Homo sapiens: one gene and its partners. The protein of the gene in region 3 interacts with the protein of the main gene of each other region in a biochemical or structural test. Each region holds a gene or a part of one and is shown on either strand. Other genes may lie near its edges. The genes, in order: RNF125, DHX58 and TRIM14.

Region 1 (7,109 bases), on a different chromosome or scaffold from region 3:
CTGGGCAGGGTGGCTCAACCTGTAATCCCAGCATTTTGGGAGGCTGAGGTGGGCAGATCACTTGAGGCCAGGAGTTTGAAACCAGTCTGGCCAACATAGCAAAACCCCATCTCTACTAAAAAATACAAAAATTAGCCGGGCGTGTTGGCACACACCTGTAGTCCCAGCTACTCAGGAGGTAGAGGTTACAGTGAGCTGAGATCACGCCACAGCACCCCAGCCGGAATAACAGAGCGAGACCCCATCTCAAAAAAAAAAAAAAAAGGAAACAAAATATTTTACCCCCAAAAATAATTATTTGACATACTTCGAGATGGCTATTGAGATGGCCTGCAGAAAGGAAAAACCCTGAAAAGCTGCATGTTGTGGGGGAGAGAAAAGTCTACATTGGTAGAGAAAGTCTACATTGGTGAAATAAATAGGCAGGCTTTCTGAGGTCTCCCCTGCCCAATCTAGGAGATTAACCAAGAGTCTGAAACGTTTGAAGGTCTAACAAAAAAACTTATCATGAACCACTACCTATTATTTTTTTTTTTTTTTTTTTTTTTTTTTTAAGACGGAGTCTCGCTCTGTTGCCCAGGCTGGAGTGCCGTGGTGCAATCTCGGCTCACTGCAAGCTCTGCCTCCCTAGTTCACACCATTCTCCTGCCTCAGCCTCCTGAGTAGCTGGGACTACAGGCACCCGCCACCATGCCCGGCTAATTTTTTGTATTTTTAGTAGAGACGGGGTTTCACCATGTTAGCCAGGATGGTCTCGATCTCCTGACCTCATGATCCGCCCGCCTCAGCCTCCCAAAGTGCTGGGATTACAGGTGTGAGCCACCGCGCCCGGCCGACTACTGCCCATTCTTTCTGAGAGCTTCTACCTGTGAAGTTTCATCTGTATAACAAGAACAGCTTTGCCCCTTATGTTTTTTTTTCCCTCTTATAACTTGTCTTGCCATCTTGCAATCCCCCATTCTTCTGTAACCTCAAGTATAAAAGCATCAAGCATCTGGCCCTTTCTTTCAGTTTTCATATTTTGTATGACTCCCACGCCCATATGCATATTAATAAATGTGTATGCTTTTATCCCATTAATCTGTTATCTGCCTGTTTTATAGACTCAAAGTATCGAATCTTTAGGAGAAAAATTTTTGGTGTTGTGATCAGGATGTAAGTCATTTTGTTCATTCTAGAGCCAATGAATGGGATCTTGGAACAACGGATGAAAAGCCAGCAAAGAAAGGTAAACTCATTTTTTTTTAACCAAGTCAGTTCTCCTCTCCGATCTCTGCCTATAGTGCCTGGTCAAATGTGGATGGTATGAGTCTCTGTGTTTTACCCTTTCTAAATTTGGATCAACAGAGAAAAACATATAAATTAGTTCTTGTATTGGTTTCAATCGCTTTTAAAATAAATGAATGGCTATATTTAAAAGAAAACTTTTTAGAGCTCACATCTTAAATAGCTACCTTATTGGTACCTATGAAAAGATACAAAAGGAATACAGGTTTAGAAACTCCCTCGGCAAGATTTTTGAAAAGTAGAAATCAGATTTAAAACAAAGTTAAAATCCTTTGTACTCAAATTGCATGCTTTAGATTCCTTATGAAATTTGTTAAATTAAAAAAAAAAAAAAAAGACTCCATCCTGTAGTCCAGTGGTAAGGATTCTGCACTTTCACCACTGCAGCCTGGATTCAATTCCCTTTCAGGGAACAAGACCCCAGGAGATGTAAATCCTTTAACTCAGGAAGGAAAAATAAAAGAAATACTTGGAAAAAATTAGTTTGAATTGTTTTGAATTTATATTTGTATGACTTCTTAACCTTTGGGGTACCCATTCATTCTGTAAGCCTCTCATCCAGCTGTTGTTTTCCTCTGTCTTAAACCCTAGAGAATATGGCCAGACAAAAATGTGGGTTGTACCCCATTTGCGGCTGGCAAAACCTTGCTTTCTTTAAGCTGTTGTAGGGAATGATCTGGATTTTGAAAGGGTTGCAACTTTTGCTCCCTCTTAGGAAACCTTGGTTGAAGCCATCAAGAGCTTCTTGGTTTCAGTCTCAAATGTTCTTATTTGTTTTGATTTTGAGTTATTTCCTTTGGTTAAAACGTTGGTTTATATTTAGAGTGTGATAGTAACTTTTTCCCCATTAATCTGCTTCCTCTACGGGGCCAGAGAGACATACCTCCTGCTACAGCTGGGAACCAAACAGGTGAGGAGAGGTGGGTACCCCCTAAAGAGGGGGTGCTGGGAGGGTCTGGGGAAAAAGAAGCATGAAATGCCACAGCTACCATTCTCTCTGCTCCCACAAAAGACTGGGTGCTCAGGCTGGGGACAGTGGTTCACACCTGTAATCCCAGCACTCTGGGAGGCCGAGGCAGGCAGATCACCTGAGGTCAGGAGTTTGAGAGCAACATGGTGAAACCTCTTCTCTACTAAAAATACAAAAATTAGGTGGGTGTGGTGGCACACCCTCGTAGTCCCAGCTACTCGGGATGCTGAGACAGGAGAATTGCTTGAACCCGGGAGGCAGAGGTTGCAGTGAGCCCAGATCGGGCCACTGCACTCTAGCCTGGACGACAGAGCAAGACTACATCTCAAAAAAAAAAAAAAAAAAAAAAAAGACCGGGTGCTCAGAGGACAAAATGTTTGCTGCTTGCATATTTAAAAGGATTTTTTAGGCTGAGGCACGAGAATCGCTTGAACCCAGGAGGCGGAGGTTGCAGTGAGCCAAGATTGCGCTGTTGCACTCCAGCGTGGGCAACAGAGCAAGACTCCATCTCAAAAAAAAAAAAAAAAGTTTTTTTTAAGAAAGATGGCTCTGTGGTCAAAAGCCAGCTTAATTAATAGCTGATATTCTCTGTTCTCTTTCAAATCCTGTTTCTCCCTTGGGAACTTCTTAGTCAACTAGACCTTTTTTTGTTCCTCAGACTCCTACTAACTAAAACTGTATTGGCCTTTTGAAAGCTTAAAATCTCCCCAAATTGGCTCCTCTAAGACTTGTTCTTCCATTTCCTTCCCCTTCTGCCCCTCCTCCTTTTTGCCATTTTTGATACCACATGAAGAGGCCTAGAGGGGACTTCTGTGAACCCTGAGACCCCTTGAGGAACACACACACACACGCATACACAAACACAAAAGCCACCAATCGCCCCTCTTTGGGGGTCCTCTGTCTTCTTTTTTTTTTTTTTTTTTTTTTTTGAGACAGAGTTTCACTCTTGTCACCCAGGCTAGAGTGCAGTGGCGCCATCTCGGCTATTGCAACCTCCACCTCCTGGGTTCAAGTGATTCTCCTGCCTCAGCCTCCTGAGTTGCTGGAATTACAGGTGCCTGCCACCACCCCTGGCTAATTTTCTTGTATTTTTAGAGAAACGGGGTTTCGCCATGTTGGGCAGGCTGGTCTCGAACTCCTGACCTCAGGTGATCCCCCCACCTCAGCCTCCCAAAATGCTGGGATTACAGGCGTGAGCCACCACGCCTGGCCATTGGGGGTCCTCTGTCTTCTCACTGAGCCACAGAAGCCATGGGCAGGGTCCATCCTCTCATGTCTAAAGTTCTGCTCTCCTGCATTAAACTTCCTAATCTCTCTGGCTTTTGGATACTGGTGTGTGCATGTGATATATGTTGTGTCTACATGTATATATATGTTTACACATGAGTTTGTATAGTCTGTAGTACCAAACTGACTTCTAAATAAATGAGTACTCACAAATTAACTATCCCAAATGTTTTTCGAAGTTCATATGACTTTAGTAATCTTTGGTAAATCAAGCTAGGTTTTTTTGTTTGTTTTTGTTTTTTTGAGAACGACTCTCAATCTGTCACCCAGGCTGGAGTGCAGTGGTGCGATCTCAGCTCACTGCAACCTCTGCCTCCTAGGTTCAAGCGATTCTCCCACCTCAGCCTCCATGTGCGCCACCATGCCCGGCTAATTTTTTAGTATTTTCAGTAGGGACAAGGTTTCGCCATGTTGACCAGGCTGGTTTCCAACTCCTGGGCTCAAGTGATCCGCCTGCCTCGGCCTCCCAAAGTGCTGGGATTATAGGTGTGAGCCACTGTGCCCAGCAATAAAGCTAGTTTTAAATTGTTAGTTGGCTGGGTGTGGTGGCTCATGCCTGTAATCCCAGCAGTTTGGGAGTGCTCATGCCTGTAATCCCAGCTCTTTGAGAGGCTAAGGCAGGAGGATCACTTGAGCCTAGGAATTCAAGATTGGCCTGGGCAACATAGGCAGACCCTGTCTCTATAAAAAAATAAAATTTTAGCAGGGTGTGGTGGGGCATGCCTGTTGTTCCAGCTACTCAGGAGGTTGAGGTAGGAGGATTGCTTGAGCCCAGGAATTTGAGGTTGCAGTAGGCTATGATCACATCACTGAGTAGTTTGTTCTTAGATCATATCTCTAAAAACAAACAAATAAAACTACTAGAAATAAGACAAACAATTCTTCAGGCAGAATATACCAAAAAAGCAAGATATGTTCTTGGAGAGAAAGGTTGTAAGAATGGCATGAGGCCGGGTGTGGTGGTGCACGCCTGTAATCCCAGCTACTCAGGAGGCTGAGGCAGGAGAACCTGGGAGGCAGAGGTTGCAATGAGCCAAGATCATGCCACTGCACGCCAGCCTGGGTGACACAGTGAGACTCCATCTTAAAAAAAAAAAGAAAAAAAAAAAAAAAAGAATGGCATGAAGTGTGATTTTTTTGTTAATGGAAAACGAATTGTGTCTAGTTTAGAAGTTATTTGAAGCTTGTTTCAAATTGAAAGAATAAAAAAAGATATAGATAAAACTAAATGAATATAGAAAGTTGGAAATAGAAGAAAAATCGTAAGAGGTTATAAAAGATATGTAAATCTTGTGTGGTCAAAGCTGACTGAAATTGGATGGACTTGTTTATTAGGTTTTATTTAAATTTATTATTGATATACTGATTCAAAAGTAAAATATGGTTTTCTCTTTTGAACAAGACTTTTGTGTAGTAGAGATGGGGTCTCACTATGTTGCCCAGGCTAGTCACAAACTGCTGGTCTCAAGCCATCCTCCTGCATCGGCCTTCCAAAGTCCTGGGATTACAGGCATGAGCCACTGCACCTGGCCAAGTATACTTTTGTGAGCAAAATAATTTACCTTTTTCTCTTTGGATTCACAAACTGGGTTTTGAGTATTCCTATTTCATGGCAATATAGTTACATGCATAAGTTCAGTAACAGTCTGAACAGGACATAATTGGAGACAGTGGTTATTTTAGCAAGGCTTTAACTGGAATGTCATACTTAGATACATGATCAAACTGTTTTGAGGGACTGAAATTGACATTAAAAAGCCAACAGACTTAGAAAAAGATTGGCCTGGTACCCTGTGTATATGGTTCCCTTACAAAATCCTGACCTTGCGGTATGTAAAGAATTGTCACTTTCTTGGCTGGGTGCAGTGGCTCACTCCTGTAATTCCAGCACTTTGGGAGGCCGAGGCAGGCAAATCACCTGAGCTCAGGGGTTCAAGACCAGCCTGGGCAAAATGGCGAAACCCTGCCTCTACAAAAAATACAAAAACTAGCCAGGTGTGGTGGTGCATGTCTGTAATCCCAGCTACTAGAGTGGCTGAGGCGGGACAGTCACTTGAACCTGGGAGGCAGAGGTTGCAGCGAGCTGAGATCACGCCACTGCCCTCCAGCCTAGGTGACAGAGTGAGACTCCATCTCAAAATAAACAAATAAGTGAAAAATAGCCAGGCATGGTGGCAGGCACTTATAGTCCCAGCTACGTGAGAGGCTGAGGCAGGAGGATTGCTGAGCCCAGGAGGTGGAGGCTGCAGTGAGCCATGATTGCACCACTACACTGCAGCCTGGGTGGCAGAGTGAGATCTCACCGCTAAAAATAAATAAATAAATAATAAAAATAAAGGAAATGTTTAATGTTTTAAAAATTAAGCTTTAAATGGGGGACTAAAGGAAACTGAAAATATTTCACCCCAAAATGTACTTCTTTGATATATTCCCACAGGAATAACCCTGAAAAGCTGCCTTTTGTGGAGGAGACTTGCATCTGTAGAGAAAATCTACACTGGTGAAATAAACAACCAGGCTTTCTTGGAGGCACCCCCTTATCTGTACCTAGGAAATTATTAACTGAAAGTCTGACACCTACGAAGGTCTGACAGAGCAACTTAACACAGGCTCATGCCTATTCTTTCTAGGAGCTGCTATCTATGAAGTTTCATCTGCATAACTAGACCATCTTTGCCCCAGCCCCTTCTTTCTTTCTCCCTCCCATAACCATGTTCCAAGCCCCTACTCTGCTGTAACCTCAAGATGGTATAAAAGCATCAAGCATCTGGCCCTTTCTCTCAGTTTTCATATTTTGTATGACTCCCATGCCCATATGCTCATTAATACATTTGTAAGCTTTTCCCCCCTTGTTAATCTATTAGCAGTTTGTTTCATAGACTCAAATGATCAAAACTTTAGGGGAAAAAAATCAAATTCAAATTTCCCTAAAGTGGTCACACATCTGGCTAGTGGCAGAGGTGAATTTCAAATCCAGCTCTCTGTAAGGGCCAGTTACTACTGCATCACAATACAACTTATAAAGTGCTCTTACATATTCATTCAAGGTACTGTTGTTATTATTAAACTTGTTTGACTTGAAATAGGTTTACAAACAAAAATCAGCATAAACCACCTAGTTCAACATGTCTGAAAATGTAGCTTCAATATGGGATAATAAAATACAGAAGGTTCATTTGCATTTATTCGTTTTCCAACTTAATTTCAATGGAAAAGAGTAATTCATTTAGAATGTACAAATGGTATTAACGCTCACAATCTCTACTGCAGAAAGGACTCTGGTTAACATTTATAAAGTGGAAGGGGACCAAGTAAGTTTGCCAAAAGGAGGAATATGGAAATTCTGCCCACAGCCAGAACAATGGACATAGATTTGTCAAAACAAAGAACAGTAAAGAGAGGAAAGGCAATTTGTTCAGCCCTTGTAATGCTATTTTATGACTATTTTTCCAGTTGCTAGTTTCCTATTCACTTTAACAAAGAAAAAGATTAAACAAAAAATTTAACATTTTGCAAATTTATATTATCCTTTAGTAGAAGGAAAAATATTGTAAATGGTAAATTA
Region 2 (7,109 bases), on a different chromosome or scaffold from region 3:
ATCTAAAAATATAAATCTGCCCTGACATTCTGTTCCTTAAAATCTATCCAAGATTCCTAAGAGGAACCTCCTGGATAAAGGCTACACTTTCACACCTGACCTTTCAAATCTTCCACGGGCTAGTCTGTCTTTTTCTAAATCTCATTATTCACAGTCCCTTCCACTCAGGTCAACTGGTGTCGCTTTTTTTTTTTTAAAGGCAGAGTCTCACTCTATTGCCCAGGCTGGAGTGCAGTGGTGCGATCTTGGCTTGCCTCCCGGGTTCAAGTGATTCTCATGCCTCAGCCACCCAAGTAGCTGGGATTACAAGCATGGGCCACCACGCCCAGCTAATTTTTGTATTTTTTTTTAGTAGAGAAGGGGTTTCAATATGTTGGCCAGACTGGTCTTGAACTCCTAACCTCAAGTGATCTACCCACCTCCGCCTCCCAAAGTGTTGGAATTACAGGCGTGAGCCACTGCACCTGGCCCTCCATGGTTACCTTCTCATTCGCTCACATTCAAACCAGACCCATTGAGACCTAGCTGAAATGCAACCTCCTCAATTGAGAAAATCTGTGTGAAGATCCTTGGCACAGTGGCCCGGAACACAGAGGGTAACATAATGAATGGATGGAGGATGGGGGAAGGTTACTCTCTAGGAGATAGTGGATGGAGGATGGCCCAGGGATGGCCAAGCTCTCTTGATATCTTCGGAATAGGTAGGACCAGAGGGTCAATGTGTGGTCTTTTGACACTTAGTATCCTGAATTCCAGTTCTTGCTCAACCAGATAGTGGCTGTGGGAACTTGGGCAAGTCACATAGCCTCTCTGAGCCTCTATTTCCTTGCCTGTAAAATGGAGACAGGGATAAAACCTGTCTAACCAGATTATTGTGAAAATGCAAAGTACTTGCTACAATGCTCTTTAGCTTCCCAAAGCTTCAAAGCACTGTCTGGATGGGAAGGATTCCCAGGCCCCCATCCCAGTAGCCCCTTCCACAGGTCTCACGAGAAGTTGGGGTTCACATTGACATGGTGGGTGCCCTCCACCTTCCGCAGGTCGCTGCCATGGCCCACAGCCACCATGCAGTTGATGCAGAGTAGCTGCACGTGCTCCACTGGGAACTGCTGCCGCTGGTTCTCCCGCTGGGCTGCCTGGGCCGCCCGCTTGGTCAAGGCTGCCTGCTGCAGATCCCGGATCTGGGGTGGGAGGAGACACCAGGCATGGCTGGGGCCTAAGAGAACGTTCCTTGGGGGACAAAAGGTTCCCAAAGAACTAAGATCATTTGTACCTGGAAGAGACTTTCCTTAACCCTCCCTGGAGCTTAAAAGAAGCTCTATTGCTGTGATGATGCAGTAACTCATGCCTGTAATCCCAGCATTTTGGGAGGCCAAGGCGGGTGGATCACGAGGTCAGGAGTTCGAGACCAGCCTGGGCAACATGGTGAAACCCCATCTCTACTGAAAATACAAAATTAGCCGGGCATGGTGGCGCATGCCTGTAATCCCAGCTACTCGGGAGGCTGAGGCAAGAGAATTGCTTGAGCCCAGGAGGTGGAGATTGTGCCATGCACTCCAGCCTGGGTGACAGAGTGAGACTCCGTCTCGGGGAAAAAAAAAAAAACAGCTATGGAGAAAAACAGTATGAGTAGTCGGGGGCAACAGTGGGAGGGGTAAGCTTTCCTGCTCAATCTTGAAGGACTTTAGGCAAAGCTGCTTCTGTGAATCTGTCATGGGGCATCATTAACAATTATGCTGGGACAACAGGGAGCACCCTGGACAAGGCAGGATGGTGGTGGCCCTGCCTCAGGGGAACTGATGATATAAGTCCTAGTTCTGGGCTTATCTTCTGCACGTGGACTTATCTTGTCCCCTCTGCCTGGTTCCAGAAAGGCTGTAATGCAGCTCTTCCAGATACATAAAGTATCTCATGGCAAAGATAAATAAAGAGCCTTGGACAAGGCCTGTTCCCAAGGCCTTCTGGAGTCCAGGTACTGCCTTCCCTGGCAGCCCCACCCCGGCCCTTATTTAAACCTTCCCTAGGTGGCCAAAGTTAGCCCCGAGATGTAGAGGGGACAGGGGGACGTATGTGTGCAGTCAGAAACCTGCCAGGGAGGGGCTCCCTCCTCCCCATCCCTCCCACAGGGCATGCAGGCTGCCTGCAGACCTTGGCCTGGTACTCGGCCTGGTCCATTTTCTGCACAGCAGCCACTGCCTGCTCCATCAGCGTCTCCAGCGCCTCGTTGATCAGCTCCCGCTTCAGCTCCCGGCTACCTTCAGTTGCTACAAACGCGTATACACTCTGATCGGCCCGGGCACGGCCCCTGGCCTGGGAAGAGAGACAAGGGGTGTCCTGAGTTGGGCTGGGGCCCCACACAGGATCCTATAAGGGCGGCTGAGTGGAGGAGGATGTGAGTACCTGGACCATGGAGATTTCATTGGTCAAGAGCCCATAACGCACCACCACATTGCAATGTGGGATGTCCAGCCCCTCCTCCGCCACACTCGTGGCCACCAGAAGGTTCAGGGTTCCATCTTGGAACTTCTGGATCACTTCTTGCTGGTCCCTCTGCAGGCGGAGGGCAGGGAGGAGAAAGAGGCTGGTACATGAGGAGGCTCAGACTGACTCCACCTGCCAGAGTAGCCTCTTCTGGTTCAGCCCTCACTCCCAATCTTGGTCCATCTCCCTAGAGTACTTGAATCCCATCTTTATCCCCAGGTACCCCCAGGATCTTGCCCATCTTCCCAGGTAACTGTCCAACCCCTATCTTCCCTAGGGACTCCTAAGGGTCCCTGCCCCTCTAGTCTAGGAAAAACTCTCAAGCCATAGTCTTCTGCAAGGGACCCCAGACCTGATCCTGTGCCCTGAGGAACTGCATCACCCACCTCTTTCCCTACGGACCCCCATGCCCAACCTTCTGCCCCCAAGGACCTCCAGACTGGGAGAGGCTCCAGCACTGGGGAGGTCAGTGTCCGCCCCTCTCCCCTAGCTCCTTGCCCCTCTGCCTGGGGATAGTCAACTTTCTCTTTCCCCAGGGTCTCCCTGCCCCCACCTCTCTGTGCTGAAGACCCTGTTCCCCGCACTTCTCTCCTATGGAATCCCTCCCAGCGCCAGCATCTTTCCCCGAAGCCCACACCTGGGTCATGTGGGTGCTCTGGCTGCTGTTCCCAGCCCCAATCAGTAGCTGGGCCCGGATGTCCACAGTCTGCAGGCCCTGCTGCTGCTGGAGCCAGAGCAGGAGGGAGTGTGCGCTTTGGCGGGTGCGGGTGAAGATGATACCCCGAGGGCTGTTAGAGCTACTGAACTGCCTTTGCAGGATCTTTTCCAGCATCTCCAGTTTTGGATTCTCTGGGCCATGAGTTGCCAAGTGGGCCAGCTCATTCTTGCGGTCTGTCAAAAACCCCAAAATTTAGCTGGGTGTAGTGGCACATGTCTGTAGTCCCAGATACTTGGGAGGCTGAGGGCAGAAGGATCGCTTAAGCCTAGGAGGTCAAGGCTGAAGAGAGCTATGATTGCACCACTGCACTCCAGGCTGTGTAACAGAGTGAGACTCTGTCTGGGAAAAAAAAAAAGAAAGCAAGAAAGCAAGAGAAAGAGAGAGAGAGAAAGAGAGAAGGAAAGAAAGGGAGGGAGGGAAAGAAAGAAAAAAAGGAAAAGAAAGAGAGAGAGAAAGAGAGAAGGAAAGAAGGGAAGGAGGGAAGGAAGGGAGGGAGGGAGGGAAAGAAAGAAAGAGAAAGAAGAAAAGCCCCAGAGGCAGAGGATTCAGATCTTGGAGTGGGGAGGGCACTGGCGGAGGAGGTTCTCACAGCAATAGGACTGTAGGCGTGCAGAAGGTGGGGGGTGGGGGGTGGGGGAAGGATGGAACTCCTGCTCAACTCCCCCACAGCAGCACCAAGAACATATTTAAGGATGCCCTGGCCGGGTGCATTGGCTCACGCCTGTAATCCCAGCACTTTGGGAGGGTGAGGTGAGCGGATCACCTGAGGTCAGGAGTTCGAGACCAGCCTGACAAATATGGTGAAACCCCGTCTCTACTAAAAATACAAAAAAATTAGCTGGGCGTGGTGATGCACACTTGTAGTCCCAGCTACTCGGGAGGCTGAGGCAGGAGAATCACTTGAACCCAGGAGGGGGAGGTTGTAGTGAGCTGGGATGGTGCCATTGCACTCCAGCCTGGGCGACAGAGCGAGACTCCCTCTCAAAAAAACAAAAACAAAAACAAAAAAGGATGCCTCCTACCGAGCCCACTCTCAAGGCCAGCCTCACACCGGGGTCATACAGTACAGAACCTCAGACCAGAACCCTCTTCTCCCCAGTGACCAGGATGACCCTTGAGCTTTTAACTCTGACCTCTGCTACCCAGATCTCTTGAGCCCCAGCCTGTGCTGCGATTTGCAACCTTAAATTTCACCCTCTGACTTTCAGCTTCACTCTCTCAGTCTAAAGGAACCACTCCTAGCTAATCCTTTTAAAAAATCTGGGCCGGGCACAGTGGCTCACACCTGTAATCCCAGCACTTTGGGAGGCAGAGGCAGGAGGATCACTTGAGCCCAGGAGTTAGAGATCAGCCTGGGCAACAAAGCAAGACTCCGCCTCTTCAAAAAAAATTTTTTTTAATTAGCTGGGAGTGGTGGTGCCCACCTGTACGCCTAGCTACTTGGGAAGCTGAAGGGTGAGAATTACTTGAGCCCATTAGGTCGAGGTTGCAGTGAGCTATGATTGCACAACTGTCCTCCAGCCTGGGTGACAGAGCAAGACCCCGACTATTAAAAAAAAAAAAAAAGTCAACAATGTTAATTAATTTTAACAACTAAGCAAAAACCTTCACAAATGAGGAAATAAATCAGTCCTACCCATGGCCTTGGATTTTGGTTAGAAAAATAGGATCTCCACCAGTATCCTCACGGGCACCTTCCCATCCGACCTTGGCGCCTGTGCCCTGGCCTCTGACCTCGCATCCAGGTCCCATCATCCCCGGCCCCGAAGCCCCCTCCCGCCCCTCACCATCGAACAGGGCCAGCAGCCGGCGCTCGGCACACAGGATCTGGGTTTTAGTGACGTGCTCCCTGTGATAGAAATCCTGCAGCGCAGCCAAGGCATCCACGGCGCGGACGGTGTCATGGATGAGCAGCGCGTCATTGTAGCGCCTCAGGTGAAGCGCATACACCCGTTGCTCCTGAAGCCCAGCCAAAGCCGCTGCGGGAAGAGGGCGCAGGGTCTGAGCAGCCCACAGCCCCGCCCCCTGCCCTGCCCCATAGGGCCGTCCCACTCGACTCCACCCCTGGGGTGGATAGGCCCCGCCCCAAAGGCCTCCGCCCCGGCAGGCCCCGCCCCTGACCACTCCCACATCCTCGCCTCCGCCAGAAGGGCTGCCCCTCTCACCAGCCTCACTCAGCTTCACCACCTGCTGCTCATACATTTGCGTCCCAAATTTCCGGCTCAACTCAGGCATCTCCAGGTGGTCATGGATTTGGTCCATGAGCTTCTTCAGCAAGTCCCCAAACGGATCCTGAGCAAGAGGAGAGTTGGAGGGGATTCCCATACACGTTGGAGGATGGGCACCCAGTGGGGGTGCTGACCCCGGCGTGTAGCACACCGCGACTGCCTCACCCATCTGTCTTAGCTGTGGTGTGAGCTCCAGAGGGAGGCCGGCTAGGGTGTGGGGGAGTCCTGCCCTGTCTCACCCGCGATGTGCTCTTACCCTTTGGCCTGGGCACGGTGATGCCTAGTGTAAGGCACATGGACGTGCTTTGGTCAAGGAATAGGCCGAGGCGGACATCCGGGCCAGAGTGACTCAGCGAGTTTGGGGGGCAGGCACGTACTCCACTTGCTATATAACCTGTTTGTGTAAGTTCATACTGGACTCTACTGTCAGTAGAAGGTAAAACTGCCCTGCTGACGCTGTTCACGGAGCTTGGTTCAGCTCGGCACGGCAGGGCACGCTTGCTCGCCCAGAGAGAGAATAATGCTACTAACCCCTGCAAGGGACAGCCGGTCGCCTTGAAGGTGGGCAGTGGGGAGCCAGGAACCCGCTTGTGCCCAGAGGGAAAGAGTTAAGCTGCTGACCCTGACAGAGCTGGCCTTGCCGGCCAGGGAGAGCAGCTGCAGGCGTGGGGGCAGCAGGAGCCACAGGGCCGGAGCAGACAGCCCAGATAAAGGTGGACAGTGTGAGAGAGCCGCTGCTGAATAAAACTACATTTCACCTGCCTATGGCCCCCCAAGGGTTCTTTCAGCTATCTGCTCACTCACTCCCTCCCTCCAGACCACAGCATGGGCTCAAACCTGACCCCAAGTGTAACATTTGGTATAGTTATGGACCTGACACCTAGTCCTTGTCCAGTCCAGTCATGGCAGACACGAGGCCGTGTCCACACTAGAGAGGGCTCAGTAGAGCCTCAGCACAAAGTATCCCTGCTCTCTGGTTTGTAGTGCACTCCCCAGCATGACAGTGATGTGACAGACACCAGTGGTGCCTTCTGAGTCAATCCAAAGAGCGGGCTGTGGGCATGGGCTGTATCTGCCCCATTTCACAGAAAGGAGAAATTGAGGCTTGGATACATAGCAAGTGACCTGAAGTCACAGAGCTAGTGAGGGCAGAGTCAGGGCCCAAGCCTAGGTGTCCTAACTTCACACCGGCTCCCGCTCTCGCCGTGTCCCTGCCCCCGCGTACCTGGCTGCGCCTGTGGCAGAGGTTGTACTGTTTGCAAGGCTGTTGGCTGTGCTCCTGCAGCTGGGGGCAGCAGTTCTGGGGTGACATGATGCACCACGTGTCCAAGTTGGCACAGAGCTGGGGGCAACAGAGGACTTTACTGGAAAGGGAGGGTCTGTGGGGACAATGGTCAAAGATTTGGGGCAGGATGGATCCCAGCTGAGGACAGGAGAATGTGGGCATTCGTCTACTCAAATATTGCTCGCCCTCTCTGTGCCCGTCTTGTTCTAGGCACTGGGGATACAAAGGAACTCAGATTGGAGTTGGAGAGGCAGATAATAAACCAGTAAAAGAATAATAGAACCGGCCAGGCATGGTGGCTCACACCTGTAATCCCAGCACTTTGGGAGGCCAAGGCGGGCGGGTCACCTGAGGTCAGGAGTTTGAGACAGCCTGGCCAACGTGGTGAAACCCCACC
Region 3 (7,109 bases):
TTTCAATGAACACGTAAGGAAGGAAGGAAAGGAGGAAGGATGGAGAGGGAGGAATCCCCAGTGCCAGCACTGAAAAACCGCACCTCCGCATGGCTCCCACCTCAGGGATGCCGTATGGTCTCTCCAGGGCTCTGCTCCTGCAGGCATGGCCTGGGCTGACCATAGGTGCCAGGCCAACGTGGAGCCTGGGCATGCTGGTGTGGGTTTGTTCCTGGGTGCAGCACAGGAGGCTGGGATGCTGCCTGCATCTCCCAGAGCCACCCTCACCCCCGTGTGCCCACACAGGCATACACGGCCACCGAGCAGGAGATGCAGCAGCAGATGAGCCTCGGGGAGCTGTGCCATCCCGTGCCCCTCTCCTTTGAGCCCGTCAAGAGCTTCTTTAAGGGCCTCGTGGAAGCCGTGGAGAGTACATTACAGACGCCATTGGACATTCGCCTTAAGGAAAGTAAGTCGCCGAGTGACCAACTTTGTGTCCTTAACTCCCCTAGTGTCCTTTAGCCCAGAGACGAATGCAAAGATCATCTCCCTACATCCTGTCTCTCCCACACTGAGGCCCTTGGCTGGGCGGTCAGGGGCTCCTGGGCCTGGTGCCCAACCCACCCTCACCACTTCACCTCCAACCCTTCCTGAGACTGAGACCTGCCCTTCTCCAGTCACACTGCCCTGCTTCTGCCCCTCAGATTGCTCCTGGGAGCCTGCCACATCTCAGCCTTGCTCTGGGCTCCCAGCTGGAATGACCAACTCTTCCTCCTTCTCTTCCTCTGGCTGGGGCCAAGGCCTGGCACCCCTTCGAGGCAGACTGGCACAGCTGCGCCCACCTGGGAAGCCCTTTCCTGCCAGCCCAGCCCTGACTCACTCTCTCCTTTAGCCATCTCCCCTCTCCCTTCCCGCTCCAGGGCCTGCCCATGTCCTGCTAGAGGGTGCTCATGAAGTGGATACATGGACCCCCCTCCTTGCCCCTTGTAAGCACGTGAAGGGCAGAAACCAGCTTTAGGTCCAACTCTGAGGTCCCCCCAGGGCCTGGCACAAAACATGTACTCAAAAATATCTGTTCTTTGATTCATTTATGCATTCATTCATTCATTCACCTCTGCTATCATGATTCATTCAGAACATTTATCAAGCCCCTCTTATATGCCAGGCATAGCAGGGCACAAAACAAAGCTCCTTCTCCTCTTTTGGTGCTCACAGTCTTCGTAGGGGAAGACAGACCGTACACAAACATGTCAGGTGACAGGAACTGCTATACTGCTATAAAGAATAATAAAGGCCGGGCGTGGTGGCTCACGCCTGTAATCCCAGCACTTTGGGAGGCCGAGGTGGGTGGATGATGAGGTCAGGAGTTTGAGACCAGCCTGGCCAACATGGTGAAACCCCATCTCTACTACAAATACAAAAATTAGCCAGGCATGGTGGCATGCACCTGTAATCCCAGCTACTCGGGAAGCTGAGGCAGGAGAATTGCTTGAACCCGGGAGGTGGAGGTTGCAGTGAGTTGAGATCATGCCACTGTACTTCAACCTGGGTGACAGAGCAAGACTCTGTCTCAAAAATAACAATAATAATAATAATAATAAACCAGGGCAGGATGGAAGACAGGAAAGTGACAAGGAGGAGGAGCTGTTTTATATAAGCAGTTGGGATGGCCTCTGAGAAGGGGACACTCAAGGTGGCCCAAAGGAAGCATTCATTCTGCAGGTTCTGTGGGTCTGAAGGGCCAGAGAGCACAGTGGTCATAGGCACGGCCTCTGGAGCTAGGCCTCCTGGGTTCCTATCCGAGGTCTACCACTTGGAACCCTGCTGAACCCTGCCATCTTAGACACGGCTCCTCCCTTTTCCATGCCTCTGTTTCTGCATCTGTAAAGTGGAGACCATAATGCAGTCGCCTCTCCTGGGCTGCTGTGAGGATTAAATGAGCTCTTACACATATAGCGCTCAGGCATATTAAGCACCACGTATGTCTTGGCGATTATGATTGCTGCTGCTGTTACGTCTGGGGGAGGTATTCTAGACAGAGGGAAAAGCAAGGGTGGAGGTCCTGAGGCGCGATGGGAGTGAGCTGGCCATATCGAAGGAGCAGCAATGGGGACAACAGGAGTGGACGTAGGGTCACAGGGGAGAGAGGAAAGAGATCAGAATCCAAGGATTTGGACGTGGGCAACTCGCAGAAGGAAACTGTCATTTTCTGAAGTGAGAAAGAGTATTTAGGACTGGAGGGAATGAAGTGAACCTGTTAGATTTGAGAAGTTGGACTTCCCATGTGGTGGTATCGCCTCGGCAGTAGGACCTATGATTCTAGAGTTCTGGGGAGAGGGGAGAGGCTTTTGCCTTGATGAAAGAACAACTTCAGCCAAATTAAATTTAAAGGAGTTTAAATGAGCAATGAACGATTCATGAATCCGGCAGCCCTCTGAGCCACAGTGCACTCAGAGACTCCAGCACAGCCACGTGGTGGAAGAAGATTTAGGGACAGAAAAAGGAAAGCGACGTACAGAAAACAGAAGTGAGGTACAGAAGCAGCTGGATTGGTTACAGCTCGGCGTTCGCCTAATTTGAACACAATTTGAACAGTTGGCTACATCTGATTGGCCAAAACTTGGTGATTGGCACAAGTGCAGGCTACGGTCTGTTTACACCTCCACTTGTTATTGTTCATGACGTACAGAAAAATATGTAGGCCGAACTTAAAAGATGTAAGGAGGAGCTTTAGGCAAAACTTGATTTAAACAGCCTGCAGGTGGGCTTCCCACAGATCTCTACAGGCCCCTGTGATGAGTGCTGGGAGTGATGGGGGCGGAAGGCACTTCTGCGGAGGTGCTGAGTGAGCTGCGGCCCCAATAGCTGGGAAGGAGGCAACCTGGGCAAGGGGGGAAGGGTGTGGGGGGGCTGTCCAGGCAGAGGGCACAGCAAGTGCCAAGGGCCCTGGGTGCCCCTGCTGTGCCCGCTTGTTGGGATAGACTCCCCTCCTTCTTTCTTTCTGAGCACTCAGACCTTCCTGAGGACTCAGCTCTACTTTCTTGTTTTCCATCTTTACCCTGGAATCTGCACATCTTCCCTGAGTCGCCGCCCATCCTTGAGTGTTGGATCCAGTAGTTGTTCGCGCCTCAGCTCCTCCTCCTATTTAGGACTCTCCCACACCAGCCTTGTCATCCTGGGGTTTTCCTGTCCCTGTGAATTCACATAAATCCCTTAAATCTGCCTGGCTCTTGGGCGAGATTATGCGAATCTCCAGTTGTGTGGTATTTTTAGCACGTCTTATTTGTCTGCTTGCATAAGCTCCGGGCGCTCATTTCTCAACAATTCCTTACAGGCATAAACTGCCAGCTCTCAGACCCTTCCAGCACCAAGCCAGGTACCTTGTTGAAAACCAGCCCCTCACCAGAGCGATCGCTATTGCTGAAATGTAAGACCCCCGGGAGTGGGGATAGGGTGGAGACGGTGGAGATGGTGGGATGTTGGGTGGAGGAGGATCATGGAAATGGAGGTCCCTCTTTTTTTCTCATTAGAATTTATTTATTTATTTATTTTAAGAACTTGTTTTTTAAAAAATGTTTATTATTAAAGGCAATAAAACAATACATGTTCATTGTAGAAAAATTAGAAAATGAAAGAAAAAAGTTACTCATAATCCCTCTTCTGTGAATAACTGCTATTATTATTTGTCCTTTTAGCTTTTTTAGCACATCTAATATGCATATAATGATATATTTAATATATCTTTTTATGTTACAAACGTGGTGTCATACTATACATACTGTTTTGTCATCTGTTTTCATTTACTGATATATTATGAACATATATATATTTGGGATTTATACAGTGAGCCACTGTGCCCAGCTAATATTATCACTATGTGTGTGTGTGTGTGTGACCGAGTCTTGCTCTGGAGTGCAGTGGTGCAGTCATGGCTCACTGCAGCCTCGACCTCTTGGGCACAAATGATTTTCCCACCTCAGCCTCCCTCATAGCTGGGACTATCAGTGTGTGCCACCATGCCCAGCTAATTTTTTATTTTTATCATTGTTTTTAGAGGTTGCATGGCATTGCATTGAATGGATGTGTCATATTTAGCCAATCTCATAATGTTGGATGTTTACATTTTCATTTCTAAAACAATGCTGTAATAAACATCCATTCTTGTACACATTTGTTGAATTGAATTAATGAATGAGAGAATGAACACACCATACCTCATTTTCAGATTATTTTTTAGGAGTAATTTCTCAAGTGGAATTACTGGGTGTCAACCTAAAAAAGACTCAATCTAAAGAAGGCTCAGTATCCAGTTAGCAGAGTTTATTCAAGTGCAAAGTAACCATCAGGAGACAGAGGGAAACCAAAGAATGGTGATCACTGCCCCTGGTGTTGGGAGGGGGACAGTGAATATCAAAACAGAGGCACTGAATAAATTTACATTTTCCATACAAAGGCTAACATACTGATTTAAAGGCCGAGCACGGTGGCTCACACCTGTAATCCCAGCACTTTGGGAACCCAAGGCAGGTGGATCACTTGAGGTCAGCAGTTCGAGACCAGCCTGCACAACATGGTGAAACCCTGTCTCCACTAAAAATACAAAAATTAGCTGGGCATGGTGGCATGCACCAGTAGTCCTAGCTGCTCAGGAGACTGAGGCAGGAGAATCGCTTGAACCCGGGAGGCGAAGGTTGCAGTGAGCCGAGGTCGCACTACTGCACTCCAGCCTGGCAACAGAGCAAGACTCCGTCTTAAAAAAAAAAAAAAAAAAAAAAGTGCACAAATCAAAAATGTGCAGATCAATCAGCTCAATGATTTTTTAAAAAGGAAACATATTTTGTAACCACCTTCAGATCAAGAAATGGAAATTTCCACTCCCCAGAAGTCTTCCTCATGTGCCTTCTTGTTTACTATCCCCAAAGGGGATCCACTCTCCAGACTTCTAGGACTATAGGTTAGTTTTACCTGTTTTTGAACTTTCAGTAGATCATTCACACTATACCCTTCTGTGTTTTGCTTCTTTCACTCAATATGAGATTTATCCATTTTTGTATATTGACATACTGAGTGGCTGTTATAAATTCACTTAGTACTTCTAAGCTATCTACAGATTATTTGGGTTTTTGTGTAAATAAGCATGTCACCTATGAATAATAATCTTTCATTTCCCCGATCTTTATTCTTTCCTTTCACTTCTTTTTCGTGCCTTGAGTTACTGTCTACTACATTTAGAACATTGTTGAATAGAAGTGGTTATAATGAGCAGCATTTTCTCCCACCTTAGACATATATCCAACAGAAATGCATACATATGTGAATCAAAAGACCTGCACAAGAATGTTATGTGACCGAAACACAGGTTCAGTTGCTCAACGCTTTGCAGAGTTCAATTAACAAGAGCGAGGTCTGGTATAAAGAAAGTGGTTTTATTCTAAAGATTAGCTTAGGGGAAGAGGTACAGGCTCCTCCTGCCCTTAACGGTACCGCCTCACTTTTGGGGCAGAAAGCAGAGGCTTTTAAATGGGGACTTTGTATGAATGGCATGCAGGGAAGGAGCAAGCAGATGGGGGTCTATATGACTCATTTTGATGCGTTTTCTACCAAGTGGTTGAGCTGGTGCCATTGAGGGCAGAACTAGGTTGTAATGTGGCCGTTGTCTTGAGATGCTGTCCGGGTGGAAGAGTTCTGTTGAAGGCATACTTTATGTTGTAAATTGACTGTTGTCTCTTAAGGCAATCTCCTGGTGGGAGAAAGTTCTGGTTCTAGACCCTCTAAGTAGGTAGATAAGTTTGCCCTGTAGGGACTATCTGGTGAAGGGAAGGTAATGGTTATAATTACATTTCTAAAGAGCTAAGTAGAGGCAGGGCACAGTGGCTCACACCTGTAACCACAGCACTTTGGGAGGCTGAGGCAGGCGGATCACCGGAGGTCAGGAGATCAAGACCAGCCTGGCCAACATGATGAAACCCTGTCTCTACTGAAAATACAAAAATTAGCCAGGCGTGGTGGCAGGTGCCTGTAATCCTAGTTACTAGGGAGCCTTAGGTAGGAGAATCGCTTGAACCCAGGAGGCCGAGGTTGCAGTGAGTCGAGATCACACCACTGCACTCCAGCCCGGGCAACAAGAGTGAAACTCCATCTTAAAAAAAATAAAAATAAAGAGCTAAGTAGGAAGTGGGAGACAGGAGAAAAAGGGGGAAAATCTTAAAAATAATTCATTCTCTTTCTCTTAGAAAAATGCTCTTTTTCTTAGAAAACTCAGTCTCTGTTACACGTTTACAGTTATAGCAACATTAGTCACAATAGGCAACACGGAAACAATCCAAATGTCCATGGAAAACTGTTTGGCCTTGTTTATGAAAGCTGAATATCCACATACCCTGTGATCCAGACTTAAAAAACAACAACAACAACAACAAAAAAAACTTCATGTGTACATACATGGTGTAATGCAAAGAGAAATGTTAATGAGAGTTTAAATCACTACAAACTTTGGGGAGGATAGTTTTGCAATATGTATCAAAGACCTTAAAAAAATACCCATTGACCCAGCAATTCCTGTTTTAGGAGTATATTCTACAGAAGCAATCAGATACGTAAAAATGTAATTGTATTAGTGGTTTCAAAAGCTTTTTAAACGGAGGACTAAGTTATGCGTCCAAACATCAAAATTTTAGAATCTCCACTAAAATGCTCTTGTGAAAGGATATTATGATGTGTCAAAATGCCTCACAAGTAGATCAATCAATTTTAAAAAGCAGATTACCTAACGTCATGTATGGTGTGACACCAATATTAAGAAAAGCTATAAAAATTAGCCGGGCGTGGTGGTGGGCGCCTGTAGTCCCAGCTACTCGGGAGGCTGAGGCAGGAGAATGGCCTGAACCTGGGAGGCGGAGCTTGCAGTGAGCGGAGATCGCGCCACTGCACTCCAGCCTGGGCAACAGAGCGAGACTCCGTTTCAAAAAAAGAAAAAAAAGAAAAAGAAAAGCTATAAAGCAGCAAGGGGAGGGGAAAGATAGGAAGTACACACACCCTAATGTTAACAGTGATAGGATTAGTTTTAATTAAATTTGTATTAATTGGCAACAAATTTCACGGCACAAAATACAGACAGTATAAGGGATGTG

What was found.
Region 1: of the proteins of TRIM14 (region 3) and RNF125, one has a biochemical effect on the other in vitro, tested with the Homo sapiens proteins (one study listed by BioGRID).
Region 2: the proteins of TRIM14 (region 3) and DHX58 form a complex in vitro, tested with the Homo sapiens proteins (one study listed by BioGRID).

What each region holds. Positions count from the first base shown.
Region 1 is NC_000018.10:32,021,742-32,028,850, reverse strand, and holds part of RNF125 (E3 ubiquitin-protein ligase RNF125), read right to left. Parts: intron 1-7,109. UniProt on the Homo sapiens protein: E3 ubiquitin-protein ligase that mediates ubiquitination and subsequent proteasomal degradation of target proteins, such as RIGI, MAVS/IPS1, IFIH1/MDA5, JAK1 and p53/TP53.
Region 2 is NC_000017.11:42,102,618-42,109,726, forward strand, and holds part of DHX58 (ATP-dependent RNA helicase DHX58), read right to left. Parts: intron 6,770-7,109; coding exon 6,653-6,769; intron 5,492-6,652; coding exon 5,365-5,491; intron 5,179-5,364; coding exon 4,987-5,178; intron 3,373-4,986; coding exon 3,119-3,372; intron 2,551-3,118; coding exon 2,401-2,550; intron 2,311-2,400; coding exon 2,149-2,310; intron 1,182-2,148; coding exon 991-1,181; intron 1-990.
Region 3 is NC_000009.12:98,088,206-98,095,314, reverse strand, and holds part of TRIM14 (tripartite motif-containing protein 14), read left to right. Parts: intron 1-285; coding exon 286-448; intron 449-3,313; coding exon 3,314-3,406; intron 3,407-7,109.